Regions from separate parts of the Homo sapiens genome. Here region 1 is linked to region 2. The links come from fine-mapping of genetic effects on gene expression. A gene starts in region 2. The other region holds a variant in brackets. All regions are shown on one strand. Distances are from middle to middle.

Evidence for each region. PIP is the estimated chance that this variant, and not a neighbour inherited with it, causes the effect.
Region 1: its variant is fine-mapped to the expression of CD38 in whole blood (TOPMed, PIP 0.91).

Annotation. Positions count from the first base shown.
Region 1 is chr4:15,753,506-15,756,417 of GRCh38, forward strand. It overlaps LOC107986186 (a long non-coding RNA gene), which reads right to left. Exons shown (of 2, transcript XR_001741393.2): 1 at 2,819-2,912; 2 at 566-1,036. It also overlaps a transcript of BST1 not described here. Among named protein-coding and RNA genes, the nearest start is that of CD38, 23 kb to the right of the region's middle. The variant G/A (reference allele first, on the strand shown) is at 1,172.
Region 2 is chr4:15,776,732-15,779,643 of GRCh38, forward strand. CD38 (CD38 molecule) reads left to right here and starts at 1,597. Exons shown (of 8, transcript NM_001775.4): 1 at 1,597-1,916. The coding sequence starts at 1,684. RefSeq lists enhancers at 1,382-2,024, 1,436-1,935 and silencers at 2,066-2,115, 2,306-2,355.

The DNA.
Region 1 (2,912 bases), 23 kb before region 2:
TAGCATCCCTCTCCATTAGGTGAGCCCTAAGGAGAAAGAGTAGGGTCTTTAAGAATGTTACGAGACACAGAGCCACAAACAGTATTGGGATAGGACCCAGCTCTCAAAGTGTGGCCCAGCCATGGCACAGCTGGAGGTTCGCAGAGATGGTGCCCACCAAAGGCAATGATGGGACATACATAAACTGCCTTGCAGGCAGGGAGAGTCCAAATCGGTCAGGGCCCATCCAGACACACAGATAGCACACTCAAATCAGGAAAATCGGAGGAGGTTTAATAGGGACTATCTGCAAACCATTGATGTGTACAGAGATGCACCAAGGCCTCACAGAGTGAGGCAACAGGGAGGTCATGGGAATCCGGAAGGAGAGAGTCCCATGGAGAGGTCATCTGGAGAAGAGCAGTGGCCTCTGTCAAGGAACCCAGTGGCCTGAGGCAACCCTGCAGGGAGGAAGCCAGCTGAGGGAATGGATAACCGGACCTCAGTCACCTTCCTTCCTTTGGGAGAGCCTCCTGGGGCTGGATCCAGGGCAGAGAGCCAAAGGGAGAGGCTGGAAGATCTGGAAGGCCAAGTGGGGGGGTGTGAGGCCACAGCTTCTTCGTGTGTATCATCAGTGGAGATTGAAAAGAGAGGAAAACCACGATGGAGGCCTGTGGGACTGTGGGCAGCTTTTTCAAGTGCAGATGTGATAATCCCCACGAAGACCCCCGGAAATATTGAGAGGGAGGCTCTTTGAAAGGGGATGGTGTTCTGCAGAACAATAGAGGCTTCATGAGTCGCTAAAGTAGAGGTTGTGAGGATTAGTGTGACCCCATTGTGAAAACTGGCCTAAAAGAACCCAAGGAAACAGGGGTATGTTGAGTTCAGGAACATTGCAGAATTTCCAGATGTTCTCTGAAGCATGCACATGTCTAAGATTGTCTCCTCTCTAAGGGTTGTGTGCAGTTTCTTACCTTCTGTGAGCTGGCTGTGAACTCAGTGCCCCTGGGTGGTAGCAGAAGCATGAATGCTGAGAGGAAGGATGTTGCTGTCAGCACTGTGTGGTTTTGAATGAGATAAAGAATCAACGTCAGATGTAGCTGCACACATACTTTATTTTGTTGAATTTCCAACTGATGAAGTATTTGATAAGCATGCCTGAAAAGATGGAAAAAACGGGCTCTTTCCCAGC[G/A]GTCCATTTTTGTAATTTAAGTACGTAGATTTGTTTTAGTTTACATTTGGTGATTTTTATGTTATTTCTGAAAAGGTAGTATATACACATGGCTTAAAAATAAAACACTATGAAAAAATCTCATTCCCACTCCTGTCCCCTGTTCTGGTCCCACACCTCTAATTCGGATGACCACTTGTTTAAAGTTCATGTAGATCTGTCTAGGGTTTCTTTGCACAAGCACATACAAATACATGTTATTACTCCCTACCTTTTCTTACACAAAAGGAAGCATTAAACACAAAATACTTTGTACTCCTTAATAGTACATCCTGGAGATTATTCTGTATCAATACATACAGAGATCCCTCACTTTATTTTTTACAGCTGCATAATATTCCATGGGAGAGATGTTTTGTAATTTATTTAACCCACCCCGTTAGGAACATCATTTAGGTTGTTTGCAATCAGTTTCTCTTTTTTTTATTTTTTTATTTTTTTGAGATGGAGTCTCACTCTGTCGCCCAGGCTGGAGTGCAGTAGTGCAATCTCAGCTCACTGCAACCTCCGCCTCCCAGGTTCAAGTGATTCTCCTGCCTCGGCCTCTTCAGTAGCTGGGATTACAGGTGTGCACCACCACGCCTGGCTAATTTTTGTATTTTTAGTAGAGATGGGGTTTCACCATGTTTGTCTGGCTGGTCTTGAACTCCTGACCTCTTGATCCGCCCGCCTTGGCCTCCCAAAGTTCTGGGATTACAGGCATGAGCCACCGTGCCTGGCGCCAGTTTCTCTTATAAACAATGCTGCAATGACTAATCTGGTATATTTATTATCTTTCATGTGGGCAGAGATATTTGTAGGTTGAATTCCTAGAAATGGGGTCAGTGAGTCAAAGAGTAAATGCATTTGCAATATTAATGTATTCATTCTTCACTGGATCTCTGTAGTTTAGCAATGAATTGAACAACTGCATATTATTTATGGGTGAAAAGCCCCAAAGAAAAAAGAAATGCTGAGTCCAGATGTCACCTTCAGTCAATGTAGAGTGGTGGTTACCACCAGTGATGAAGGTCTTAGAGTGTTTATGCATCTGTGAGTGTGTGAGTGTGTGCTCATTTGTGTACTCTGAAAACCCTATTTGAAAAAAAAAACTTAACCATTGGGTTATTAGACAGATAATCACTTCACTCCAATTTCAAATCAATGAGTTTCTTATTCCAGCTTATATTCCAATAGTCCAAAGCTTCCAGGGAATAAAGGTAAAACAATCTGAGAGCTCTGAGTTCCTCCACAGGGCAAGTACCATGTAAACTGATAGATGATGTTAAGGTTCTCAAGGTGGTGACTAAACAGTTCTCCCAGTCTCTGCAACATAAACATAAACTTAAAAATTACACTGTAAGCTAGATCTTCATTTTGAAAATAACCATGGAATTTGAAAAAATAAAACTGAAACAAACAAAACACACCACCATGAACAACAAAAACAACAACAAAACAAGGGGGAAAAACCGACTTTCTGGTGTTTTTGCTAAAAGACTGCAGGGTGGGTTGGGGGAAGCTCTTCTCATAAAAGAAAAGTACTAGACAATCTGGTCTTTTAAAGGGTCTTGAAAACAGATTATGCAGTAAAACTGAGCTGTCAAAGACCCTCAGAGATGGTCGTACCTGGCTAGTCCTATGAAGCGCCCAGCTAGAGGAGAGTTTTCTTTCTCATTTTCAATCGTGGTTTGTGGTTAAAGATGTGCATGCCAATGGCAGG
Region 2 (2,912 bases):
CAATCTCATTACTGGGTATATACCCAAAGGAATATAAATCATTCTGTTATAAAGATACATGCATGCATATGTTCATTGTAGCACTATTCACAATAGCAATGACATGGAATCAACCCAAATGCCCATCAATGACAGACTGGATAAAGACAATGTGGTACATATACACCAGGGAATACTGTGCAGCCACAAAAAGGAACGAGATCATGTCCTTTGCAGGGACATGGATGGAGCTGGAAGCCATTATCCTCAGCAAACTAACACAGGAACAGAAAACCAAGCACTGCATGTTCTCACTTATAAGTGGGAGCTGAACAATGAACACAGGGAGGGGAACAACACACACTGGGGCCTGTTGGGGAGAGTGGAGGGAGGGAGAGCATCAGAAAGAATAGCTAAAACATGAGGGGCTTAATACCTAAGCAATGGATTGATAGGTGCAGCAAACCACCATGGCACACATTTACCTATGTAACAACTCTGCACGTCCTGTACATGTATCCCAGAACTTAAAACAAAATAAAAAAGATAAAAAATAAATAAAACACACAGTCCAAAAAGTCATCCTGTCTTACAGAGCTATGGGTGATCTGGTCTCCTGCTACTTTCCGAACTTCTGTTCTGTTTCCCTCAACCCTCTAGCCTAACTACAATTGGCCTCCTTGCTGCTCTGGAACAGGCCAAGAGCTTTTCTGCCTCAGAGTCTTTGCACCTGCCATTTCCTCTGCTTGGGAAATGTTTGCCCCAAGGGAGTTGGGTGACTTGATCGCTCACATTACTTAGGTCTCTGCTTGAATGTCACAGATGTTCTCTTAATAAAGAAGAGGCAAGAAAAGCCACTTTATTATTTATTAAACTCCCGCATAGAGTGCAGTATTATTACTGTGTGCCAGACCCTGCTTCAAACACATTCCATGGACTATAAAATTGCATCTCTGAGCAGCTCCTAGAGCTGGTAGTAACAACTTACATTTACTGGGTGATTACCATGTGCCAGGTATTGTGCTAAACACGTTGTAGATATTAACTCACTTAATCCTCGTAACAATCCCATGAAGTAGGTACTGCTACTATCCCGGCTTTACATCTGAAGTACAGAGAGGTTAAGTAACTTGCCCCATGTCATCCAGCAAGAACTAAATTTGAACCCAGAGCTTAGCCACTGATGCCTCTTGAGAGAAGGAGTCAGACTTAAGTTGAGTCTTTAAAGGTGGTTGACCAGGCATTTGTCAGAGTTAAGAAAGAGAGGTAGGACATCCTTTTCCAGGCAGAGGGCATTGTGTGCACACACGTATAGAAGCAGGCAGCCCACCCTCATGCTTTCCAGGAAGCAAATGTGGCTCAGGTGTAAAGTGCCCGGTTGATGAAGGGAGTTAGCGGAGGGAGTATAAGGATGTACTGTCTGCCCCCTTAGGACACCTGCAGAGGATTAAGGTGGCTGTTTCTCCCTGGAGGTGGAGTGGGTGGGTCACTGCACAGGAGCCTATAGTTGTTGGTCTTTTAAACTCTTATTGGTGTAACCAGCCACGGAACTCTGAGGCAAGGGGTTGGGGGTGGGAAGGGAAACAGAGAAAAGGCAAGTGAAACAGAAGGGGAGGTGCAGTTTCAGAACCCAGCCAGCCTCTCTCTTGCTGCCTAGCCTCCTGCCGGCCTCATCTTCGCCCAGCCAACCCCGCCTGGAGCCCTATGGCCAACTGCGAGTTCAGCCCGGTGTCCGGGGACAAACCCTGCTGCCGGCTCTCTAGGAGAGCCCAACTCTGTCTTGGCGTCAGTATCCTGGTCCTGATCCTCGTCGTGGTGCTCGCGGTGGTCGTCCCGAGGTGGCGCCAGCAGTGGAGCGGTCCGGGCACCACCAAGCGCTTTCCCGAGACCGTCCTGGCGCGATGCGTCAAGTACACTGAAATTCATCCTGAGATGAGGTGGGTTGGCGACTAAGGCGCACCGGTGGGCACTGCGGGGACAGCAGGGCCCCGCGCGCAGGGAAGCCGCCCGGATCGCCCGGAACCGGGCATCTTCCGTGGCGGGTCAGCCGAGAGCCCGCCGGGTGGTGCTGAGTAGGGAGTCCCGGGCTCGGGGCTCCGCGGGCCGCTTTCAGGAGCAGCTGGCCTTGGCACCGAGCGTGCCCGCGGGAGGCGGGGGGGGGCGCTGCTCGGTGGCTCTGCTGCGTAGCCGGTGAACACTTGGCACCGATGCCCGCCTTCTGGGCAAGGTGCCCTGAGCCCAGCCCCTCGCCGGGCTGCAGCCCACCCTCGGCGCGCTCAGCCCGCTTCACCGCTTCAGGGACGGAATAGAACTCGCAGATGCAGGGTGTCGCTGACATTTTCAACTTTTTCTGCGGTTTCCGCCCGCTGTCTCTGACCCGAAAGTGCCCCCGGACGGTTACAGAGGACACTTAAGTGGTTTGCAAAGCCTGTGGTAGGGGAGGAGGGTGTAGAAGGGCCAAACCACGGAACTTAGTTTTATTCATTTATATAAAGCAGCACTCCGATTCTTTTTGCGCGGCCTGAAATGCATGTGACCAGAGAAGTAATTAACAAAACAATGTCAACTTCTAAAACCGAGACATTACTTAGATGATAAGGCGCAGCAACTCGGTGAATCTGTACAAACCTTGGAAAAAAAACACATTAGTCTATGGGACCTTCCAGTTTTCTCATGCTCCTTTCCAGCTACTAACCTCTCCTAAAGGGAACAACCACTTTTTGGATTTGATTCCCAGGCCTCGCTTTCACCGGGAAATTATCGTTGCTTGTAAAACAGAAGAAGCCGGGAAGGCAGGCAGGGGGAGCTGCTACTTTACACTCTGTGCTTTGGGATAGCAAAATCCCGCATTTAAGCAATCCGAGGAAACGAGCAAATAGACCTCCCTCGCCTCTCCGAGCACACTCAACAGTTCCGGTTGCAAAATGTTTGCC